Linked DNA regions of Homo sapiens: region 2 is linked to region 1. A link means that fine-mapping ties the variant in region 1 to the expression of a gene that starts in the linked region. Tissue or cell type: lung. Region 1 holds a variant in brackets; the other region holds the start of a gene. All regions are shown on one strand. Distances are between the middles of the regions. Region 1 overlaps HEATR5A (HEAT repeat containing 5A). Region 2 holds the start of HEATR5A (HEAT repeat containing 5A).

Evidence for each region.
Region 2: it holds the start of HEATR5A, and the variant in region 1 is fine-mapped to the expression of HEATR5A in lung (TOPMed, PIP above 0.99). The same link has a PIP of 0.9 or more in esophagus mucosa.

The regions. Positions count from the first base shown.
Region 1 is chr14:31,391,393-31,396,777 of GRCh38, reverse strand. HEATR5A (HEAT repeat containing 5A) reads left to right here. Exons shown (of 36, transcript NM_015473.4): 5 at 1,430-1,579; 6 at 2,552-2,726. Among named protein-coding and RNA genes, the nearest start is that of HEATR5A, 26 kb to the left of the region's middle. The variant C/T (reference allele first, on the strand shown) is at 2,154.
Region 2 is chr14:31,417,533-31,422,917 of GRCh38, reverse strand. HEATR5A (HEAT repeat containing 5A) reads left to right here and starts at 2,368. Exons shown (of 36, transcript NM_015473.4): 1 at 2,368-2,446. It overlaps HEATR5A-DT (HEATR5A divergent transcript), which reads right to left and starts at 2,160. Exons shown (of 4, transcript NR_110045.1): 1 at 1,941-2,160; 2 at 950-1,074. RefSeq lists enhancers at 2,048-2,197, 2,628-2,677 and a silencer at 2,788-2,907.

The DNA.
Region 1 (5,385 bases):
TGATCTTTGATTTAGTTGATCAGGTATCACAACATTTCAGAGATGTCCACACTCACCAGTGATACACAACATTTGGAACTGGAATAAAAGAAAAGTTCTGAAGTTGCTCGTTAGCATTATTTTATTATGTTCACCTATGACTTTTAAGTGCCTTTAAACAAAGATAAATTAACAATATTACTATGAAATGATTCTTGATGCTGATCTTTGTCTTCCTCCAACTCCAACTTCTCTACCTTCAGTGGCCCAACTTCCTGGGATATAGATATGATTTGAGGCATTTAGTAAAACATTAATAAAATAAGCAGCTACTATTTCTTTTTCTTTTTTTTTAAAGACAGGGTCTGGCTCTGTCACCCAGGCTGGAGTTCAGTGGTGCAGTCTGTACTCACTGCACCCTCTGCCTCCGATTGTACCCTCTGCCTCCCACTGCACCCTCTGCTTGCCAGGCTCAAGCCACCCTCCCACCTCAGCCTCTCAGTAGCTGAGACTAAAGGTGTGCACTACCACGCTCCCACCTCAGTCTCCTGAGTAGCTGGTTCTAGAGATGTGCACTAACACTCCTGACTAAAATTGTATTTTTTGTAGAGTTAAGGTTTCACCATGTTGCCCAGGCTGGTCTCGAAGTCCTGAGCTCAAGCAATCGGCCCACCTTGGCCTCCCAAAGTGCTGAGATTGCAGGTGTGAGCCACCGCACCCAGCCAAGCAGCTACTATTTCTTGACTTTTAACTGTGTGCCAGGCACTGTGGTGAATGTTTACCCATGAGGTTCATCTTATCCTCATTTTATAGATGAGGAAATAAGAACAATTTAAAGTCACAAAGTTACTGCGGGTCACAGAGAAGTTCAAACCCAGGTTTTTTCAATTCTAAAGCCAAGACTTTTAAACTGTGAGTTAAGCTGTTCCAACCAATAAATAATAACAAAGTATAGCTACCAAATCTATTGAACATTTGTTGTATGTCTGGGCTTGTTGTAAGCACTTTGTGTGTATGACTCATTTATTCCTTACAACAGCCTATGAGGGATACTATTACCTCTGTTTTTTAGATGAAGGAACAGATTTGCCCAAGGTCCTATCTAGTAAATGGCAGACCCTGCATTTTTAATAGGTTAGCTTAGACTATAGCAACTATTTATTGAATGCTTAATGGCATGTAAGCTTTTTGCTAGGCACTTTTCATGTAATTTTGTTTAATCTTCACATCAACCCTGTGAAATTTGTATCATGTTGAAAATCAGTGTATACAAGTAACTTTTCAAATAATATTTCATAAAATAGTAACTTGTTTCTTGATGTCATAATGGGTTGGTTAGTATGTAGAGAAGTCTGGATATTTCTTCAGTATGAGAGACAGATATCAATGTTTAATCCTGTTCTTTGCAGTTTAATTATTTTTCCTATTTAATTTTTTTTCTTTTTGGAAGTCTCAAGGCCGATATGAGATTATGCTAAGTCTGCAAAATATATTGAATGGACTAGGAGCTGCCGCTGCACCTTGTCACAGGGATGTTTATAAAGCTGCTAGATCCTGCTTGACAGATAGATCCATGGCTGTTCGTTGTGCTGCTGCAAAGGTAAAATGATCTAATAAGCAGACTTTAAAAATTAATATAAAGAAAAGTAAATCAGCTTCTTTGTGAAAGCATTAGTAAAAGCTACATGATCTTGGTAGTCAGCTAGGACTATCTCATTTTAACATATGAGGAAACTAAGGCCCAGAGTTATATGAATTTCCCAAGGTTCAAAGAGTTAGCAACACATTGTCAGAGGGTAGGAAGTTCAGGTTTCCAGAATCTTAAGTATTCATTCTACTCTACTATGTTTTCTCCGTAATTGTGTAAATTAAAATTTACATGTGAGGTTTATGTTGTTTCAAAGTGATTTTTTGTTTTATTTTTAATTTATAGCTTCTTAACATAGTTGGTAAGAGAATACAGTAAAGTTTTTTTGTTTGTTCTTTTTTTTGAGACTCTGTCGCCCAGGCTGGAGTGTAGAGGCGCGATCTCGGCTCACTGCAAGCTCTGCCTCCCGGGTTCACGCCATTCTCCTGCCTCAGCCTCCTGAGTAGCCAGGACTACAGGTGCCTGCCACCATGCCCAGCTAATTTTTTTTTGTATTTTTAGTAGAGACGGGGTTCCACCATCTTAG[C/T]CAGGATGGTCTCTATCTCCTGACCTCGTGATCCGCCCGCCTTGGCCTCCCAAAGTGCTGGGATTACAGGTGTGAGCCTCCGTGCCCAGCCAGAGTTTTTTTAATGTTGGAATTATTCTCCCAGTTGTTCATAGCCAATAGATTGATTCTAAAGGCATTTTTCATAACCTGTGGAGTTAGAAATGGGTTCTCCTCCCACCTTTTGTAGGTTCATTCTCTTCTATAATATAATCTTTATGACTTTTAATAAGTATCCATTTATTATTCCTGTAATCATAATAGATACTTTGAATTTGTATATTATTTGTTAGACGCTGATAGTTTCTGCAACTTACATAGCTCTGAACCTGACATTTGTATTTTATTTTTCATTAATTTCTCTTTGTCCAATTGAATAGTGTCTCCTTGAACTTCAGAATGAAGCCATCTTTATGTGGAGTACGGACCTGGACAGTGTGGCCACACTGTGTTTTAAGTCCTTTGAAGGTTCCAATTATGATGTGCGGATTTCTGTTTCAAAGTTACTAGGCATAATATTAGCTAAAGCTGTAATTTCTAAACATCCAGGAACAGGTAAATACATGTAATTATTTTCAAAGTCTCTTCTGTAATTTTTTCCCCAGTTGATATAAACAAATATGTATAGTGTTATTGCTACCCGTTATAAATCAATTTCAGGCCAGGCATGGTGGCTCACACCTGTAATCCCAGCACTTTGGGAGGCCAAGGCGGGTGGATCACCTGAGGTCACAAGTTTGAGACCAGTCTGGCCAACATGGTGAGACCCGTCTATACTAAAAATACAAAAATTAGCTTGGTGTGATGGCACACGCCTGCAATCCCACCTACTTGGGATTACAAGAATCACTTGAACCCAGGAGGCAGAGGTTGTAGTGAGCTGAGATTGCGCCACTGCACAATCTCAGCCTGGACAACAAAGCGAAACTTCATCTCAAAAAAAAAAAATCAATTTCAATTCATAAACATTGCTGTAGGTCCTGAGATTTCATTTGAAACAATTCAGTAAAAATTTGAGGAAAATTTACAAGAACTCTTGAAGTGTGGTGTACTTTATGCAATCATTGTCTTCCTTTTACATTACAGCTTTTTTGTGTGTGTGACAGGGTCTGCTGTCACCCAGTCTGGAGAGCAGTGGTGCCATCTCAGCTCACTGAAACCTCTGCCTCCTGGTCTCAAGTGATCCTCCCACCTCAGCCTCCTGAGTAGGCGGGACCACAGGCTTTCACTGCCATCCCCGGCTAAATTTTTATATTTTTTGTGGAGATGGGATTTCACCATGTTAGCTCTGCTGGTCTCGAACTCCTGAGCTCAGGTGATCTGCCTTCCTTGGCCTCCCAAAGTGCTGGGATTACAGGCGTGAGCCACCACCCCCCAGCCATGGCCTTATTTTTATATATTTTTTTTAAAGTAATTGTGAAGTGTTATCCAATAAACGATATGATCTAAATACTGAATTTTCTTTTTTTTAAAGCAGCATGCATCTGACTACATATATTTGGCTTGCCATTTTTTAGATTGGTACAATGGAGCATATAATGTAGATAATTCTAGATACTTGTAGTTTATTGTATTTGGACAGTTTTGCTTTGTCTTAGTGATTTCATTGTTGTTGTTTTTGGAAACAGGGTCTCACTCTGCCACCCAGGGTGGAGCAGTAGTGCAATCACAGCTTACTACTTTCTCCGCCCCAACCCCAGAATTAGCCATTTCTCTAAGGAGTTCTGCTTTTGAATCTTTTGAATAGTCAAATAGAATAGATGTTGAGTGTGAAAGAGAAGTCCAGGATGACTTTATGAATTTTGGGCTGAAAACCTGGAAGTACAGAGTTGTCATCAACTGATTTGAGCAAGTGTGCAAGTAGAGCAGGCTGTGTATGTGTCAGGGAGGAGGATCAAGCACTGAGTTTAAAACAATTTGGAACATTAACTAGACATCGAAATAGAGATATCAGATAGACAGCTGGATATGAGAGTCTGGTGCCCAGGAGAGAAGACTGGACATCAAATTCATAAATTTTAGGAATAAATATATTTATTTTAGGAATAAATTAATAGTGATTATTCAGGAATCTCTAATATAGAGATGGAATTTAAGCTATGAGATTGGATAAGATCACAAGACAGTGAGTATACATAGAGAAGAGCAGACCAGGTACTAGGTCATGAGTTTTCTCTTGGAGAACACAAGAAACCATTGAAGAAGACAAAACAGAAATTTCCAGTGAGAAGGCAGGAAAGAAAGCCAAGAGAGCATGTCTTGTGGTCTTATCCAATCTCAGGCCATCTTAAAGTATTGCCAGATACATTGCATCATAATTATAAATGATAATTTTACAGTGGAAAAATGTGGCAGACTTACATTGTGCACATGTTCAAAGCTAGTATCATCTGTGTAGGGACAGACTGACACCACACCTGGCAGTGCTTTTTGATGTTATGCATTGAACAGGATGTAACATCACTTACATAGTTCTCTGTCAAAAATTTGGAGGAAATACCAGACAAACTCATATCAAGGGCCATTCTATAAAACAACTGGCCATAAGTGTATTCTTCAGAAGTGAGAAAGTAATGAGGAAAATGTGATGAGTCCAGGTAGATGCAGTCATGCATAGCTTAATAATAGGGACACATTCTGAGAAATGCATCATGAAGTGATTTTGTCATTGTGGGAACATCATAGAGTGAACTTACACAAATCTAGATGGTATAGCCTACTGCACACTAGGCTATATGGTATAGACTATTGCTCTTAGACTACACACCTCTACAGCATGTTACTATACTGAATACTGAGAAAACTGTAATACAATGGTATTTGTGTATCTAAACATGTCTAAATATAGAAAAGGAACAGTATAAATATGATATAAAAGATAAGAAATGGTACACACCTATACGGCACTGACCATGACTGGAACTTACAGGACTGGAAGTTGTTCTGGGTGAATCAGCGAGTGGCGAGTGAATGTGAAAGCCTAGGATATTACTGTATACTACTGTAGATGTTACAAACACTGTACACTTAGGCTATGCTAAATTTAAAAAATGTGTATTTTTCTTTAATAATAAATTAGCCTTTGTTTACTAAAAGTTTTTTACTTTATAAACTTTTTAATTTTTAAAATTTTTGATTCCTTTGAATATTTTTATAATAACATTTAGGGGCCAGGTGCAGTGGCTCATGCTTGTAATCCCAGCACTTTGGGAGG
Region 2 (5,385 bases), 26 kb before region 1:
GGTATTTAAAGCTCTTTTAATTATTCTGTATTAAAAAATATTTTACAATAAAATGTTTACAGAATCTAAGGCTGGGGCCAGGCGCGGTGGCTCATGCCTGTAATCTCAGCACTTTGGGAGGCCGAGGCGGGCTGATCATGAGGTCAGGAGTTTGAGACCAGCCTGAGCAACACAGTGAAACCCCGTCTCTACTAAAAATACAAAAATTTGCCAGGTATGGTGGCACACGCCTGTAATCCCAGCTACTCAGGAGCTGAGGCCAGTGAATTGCTTGAACCCGGGAGGCGGAGGCTGCAGTGAGCCAAGATCACACCACTGCACTCCAGCCTGGGTGACAGAGCGAGACTCCGTCTCAAAAAAAAAAAAAAAAAAGAGAGAGAGAATTTAAGGCTGGGTACAGTGGGTCACACCTGTAATCCCAGCACTTTGGGAGGCTGAGGCGGGTGGATCGCTTGGGCCCAGGAGTTCGAGACCAGCCTGGGCAAAATGGTGAAACCCTGTCTCTACAAAAACAAAAACAAACAAACAAAATTAGCCAGGCACAGTGGCACACCCATTGTCCCTGCTACTTGAGTGGCTGAGGTGGGAGAATCACCTGAGCCTAGGAGGTTGAGCCTGCAGTGAGCTGTGATCAGACTACTGCACTCCAGCCTGGGTGACAGAGTGAGACCTTGTCTTCTTGTCTCAAAAAAAAAAAAATTACACACACACACACACACACACAACACAGAAGCTAGAATGAATATGAGACCTTGTCTTCTTGTCTTAAAAAAAAATTGAACACACACACACACACACACACACACACACACACACATATCACAGAAGATAGAATGAATGGGGCCCCTACCCACCAAACTTGGGATAATTGAGCATCAAAATAAATAATGATAGAGACAGAATATTGGCTGGTGTGGTGGTGTGCATGCCTGCAGTCTCAGCTACTTACCTGGGAGGCTGAGGCAGAAGGATCACATGAGCCCAGAAGTTCAAGGCTGTAGTGTGCACCATGATTGCATTATCGACCTGTGAATAGCCACTGCACTCCGGCCTGGGCAACAAAGGAGGCCCTGTCTCAAGAAAAAAAAAAAAAAAAAGAGAGAGAGAAAAGAGAGAAAGAAACGGATTATAAGTCATTTAACAAAATAGAAACCTCTGGATCCATACTAATTAATATAAATACATTAACTGAAGATTTGATGAGAAACAAGATATTTACAAATATCTTGAAAGGAGAGTTTCAGAGTCTCCCTCACAAAATACTTATTAATTTACAAAGGGGGGAAAAAAGTAACCACACTGGACAAGCCTAACAGACATCACCTTATTAAAGTAAACATCTGTAATGAGAGAAGTTAAAATCGTGCCACCTGATAGGGTGCCATGAGAAGAAAGCAGCAACACTTCTAGAGTCCTGTCATACCTAGCTAAATGTAATCATGAGTAAATATCAGACAGACCCAAAATGAAGGCCATTCTACAAAAATAACTGGCCAGGAATCTTTAACAGCGTCAAGAATATGAAAGGCAAGGCAAGACTGAGAGTTCCAGTTTGAAGAGTAGGAAAGATACATGATAAGTAAATACAATGCCTGATTCTGAACGGAATCTTTTACCATAAACAATATTATTGGGACAATTGGTAAAACGCCGAGTTATGTAAATGTTTTGATTTTGATGGTTATATTGTGATTATGTAGAAGGTGCTTAGGGACAATGTGGCATGGTGTCAGCAATTTAAATCTCAATTCAGGGAAAAAAAGTTCTTTGTACTATACTTGCAACCTTTTTGTAAGCTGGAGATAGATTCAAAATGAAACTTGAAAAATGACATTTAAAACGCTGAGTGTAGTGGGAAAACGCACATGACTCAAGGTAAGAGGCTATTAGTCTCAGTTCTGCCATTGACTTAGTATGTGACCTTGAGCAAGTCACTTTACCTCAGTCCTCACAGTCAAGGCTCTCTAGGGTCCCTTCCACGTCTAACATCTACCCCCACAGCACTGGCCCCGCCTGAATTTCTCCAGGCCCTTTAGGTGTCCCAGAGCTGCACCCAAAGACTCTGGCTTACGATAAAAACAGACAAAAATAGTTGTGGCCGGAATCTCCGGACTGAAAAACCGCTGTCCTAATCCTAACTTGGGCCGCAGTCTCCATCGCTCTTTCGACGGTGAAGCAGTCACGCCTGCCAGAGTGGGCGCTCGATGGCTCGGCGGCCAGCTGGCGGGGCCTTGGACCAGCGGCCCGGCGCAGGGCGCGCTCCCAATCGCTAGCTCCCGCGGTGCTCGCCGCTGAGAGCTTTCCGGCCACGCCCCACGCGCGCCCCGCCCACCTCAATGCCTCGCTGTCGCCGCCGCCGGCAATTCCAGACTCTGCTAGGGTTAGCAGAGCAGCCGGTAACGTTGCTGGACCGGGACGCACGCTCAGCTGAGGAGGACCCCCAAAGGCAGGCAGTCGGGGATCCAGGGAGCGGGGACACCTCCGGGCGCGAGGGGGCTGTGTCTGGGCTGCCTGTTGGCTGGGAAGGAGAACGCACCAGGGCCGCTGTATGAGTTGAGCGCTCGGGGATCCCGAGGGTGGTCGCGGCAGCAATGTGATCGCGAAAGAAGCCGGTGGGAGAACCGGTCGAGGGGCTAGGTGTCTTGACCCTAAGGGCTGGAGTCCGCCGAGAAGGGGCTGACTGGGGCACAGGGTCGGCTGATAAACAGCGTGGTCCGTTCTTCCTCCTGGACTACGGGAAAGTCTGGCTTCACCTGTGCACAACAGGTAGGCGTGGACTCTGCCCGCCAGCGGGAGCCGGGGTTGCCGGGCGTGTGGGGAAGGTCAGCAAGTCGGAGCCCGCCTCGCCAACTCGCCGCTCCCGGGACCCGCCCTGCGGCGTCCGCTGCGCCAGTGGTCAGCCAGGAGCCGGGCCCCGGCCCGGCCTTCGGGCGAGCTTCCTCAGAGGCCCGTTCGTTTTCTGCAGGAACCCTCAAAGAGAGTTCCCAGAAGGGAGCAGTGGAGAGTGTGGATATTTGCTTTCTAACTGTTGCAGTTCTCTCCAGGAAAGAAAGCTTTTCCTTTGGTGGCATTTGCTTAGTGTGAGGAAACATTTTCTTTCACCCTACTCTCGGCCAACGCGGCGTTATTTCAAGTGATTATAAAGTCTTTAGAAACTTTATAAAGCGTTTTATAGTGTTTATTTATCACAGTAATGGATACCTCTGGCAAGTTGGGATAATTTTCTTGACTGTCAAGTCAGATAATAATAAAATGGCTTGAGCTCCTACATTAAAGGTCATAGTTATCCATTGTTTTTATGTGCATTCATTTATTGAACAAATATGCAGCACTTTTTTGGGGCTAGGCGCCCTTAAGGAATTTACAGCCTGAAAGATATTAGAAGTTTAAGGAGGAAAAAAAGGGGCCCACAAGTACACTTAAGAACTTCCAGAGAAAATACTCCCAGTGAAATTACTTAAGCTGTAGGGAAAGCAGAAGTGTGGTTAGAATTGAGCATTAGTTGGATGGGGAGAGGAGAATTTTGTTTAATTTTCCAAACATTTTAGAAAGTATGTCTTTGAGAAAGTAATTTTAGATAAAGTATCGAAGCCGAGATTTGTGTTACATTTTAATGCCATTGACTTTTTTTTTTTCTTCACTGATAAGCAGGCAGGATTTATAATATAAGAATAGTGACAGTTGGAGAATACTGTAGTATGGATTTGTTGTGCCTTGGAATGCAGTTGTTTTACCTAGATGACTATAGAATAGGAGAATAAGAAAAGACTCCTCACCTGAAAGTCAGGAGACCTGAATTCTAGCTTAAGTTCCCTCCACTATTTATGGATGTTAGATTAGGTCACTTTTTTAGTATTATTCATTATTGTATCTGACTTTAGTCACAGAAAATACATGACTCCAAAGTACCTTTTTAATTCTTAAATTATTAATTAAAATTAACTACATTAAACTAATGAATATATTATCTACAGAAAAAAATTATTTTTTTACTTGTCTTTAACCAATACACTTACCTTTCTTCTTGCTTTGTTTCAAAAAGGTTGAGGTAGTTTATAATAGTCTTTCTTAACTATGAATAACATAAGGGTTAAATTCTGAATTTTTTAAATTCTAAAATTATTCTGAATTAAGCGTTTAATGACATCTGCATTTTTTTAAAAAGCTCTATTGAGTCTTGTGTGGTTCATTAATTATCCCATAGTATAATTGAAGAGTTTGAACAATCCTTTAATGAGACCACAGTCCTCATATAAATAACACTTCTGCTTTTTCAGGAGACATTGAGAAACTGTTATTAAATCTCATTTGAGAAATCAATTAACTGGGGCCAAAAAACTTAGTAAAGACTTGCCTGTGTCACTTAATTAGATCCCTTGTCTAGTTCTAGTGTTAAATTTTTGAATTAAAATAGTGCTCAGCAATCTACAGCCTGTGGGTCAAATCTGCTCTGCTGGCAGTTTTATAAAAGTTTTATTGAACACAACAATGCTCCTTCGTTATGGCTGTGCATGTTTTGTTTTTGAGTAGTTGTGATAGAGACCGTATGGCTCCCAAAGCCTAGAGTATTGTCTGGTCCTTTACAGAAAAAAATTAGTGGACCCCTGAACTAGAGCTCTTAAGTGCTTAATCACTAAATCTTTTGTAGGAGGAAATAGATTAAATTCAGTTTTAATTCTTCTGTTTGTTTGTTTGTTTTTGTTTTTATCGAGACAGGGTCTGGCTCTGTAGCCCAGGCTGGAGTGCAGTGGCGCGATCTTGGCTCACTTGCAAGCTCTACCTCCCCGGTGCAAGTGATTCTCCTGCCTTAGCCTCCCGAGTAGCTGGGAGTACAGGCATGCACCACCACGCCAGGCTAATTTTTGTATTTTTAGTAGAGACGGGATTTCACCATGTTGGCCAAGCTGGTCTCCAACTCCTGATCTCAGGTGATCCGCCCGCCTCGGCCTCCCAAAGTGCTGGGATATTACAGTCATGAGCCACTGCGCCCAGCCTCACTTTTACTTATTAATCTTGGTTTTTCATTATAATGTCAGGTAATTGTAGGACTCATAAATGCTTCTGGATCTGCAGTGTGTAATGATAGAGGAAGGGCATGGTTTTTCTGCTACATTTACCTAGTGTAAAGTTTTATAATTTTGGCAACTCTCTCCTTTTTTTTTTTTTTTGAGATGGAGTCTCGCTCTGTCCCCCAGGCTGGAGTGCAGTAGCGCCATCTAGGCTCACTGCAACCTGCGCCTCCTGGGTTCAAGCGATTCTCCTGCCTCAGCCTCCGGAGTAGCTGGGATTATAGGCGCGTGCCACCACGCCCATCTAATTTTTTTTTCTTTTTTTGAGACAGAGTCTTGTTCTGTCACCCAGGCTAGAGTGCAGTGGCGCGATCTG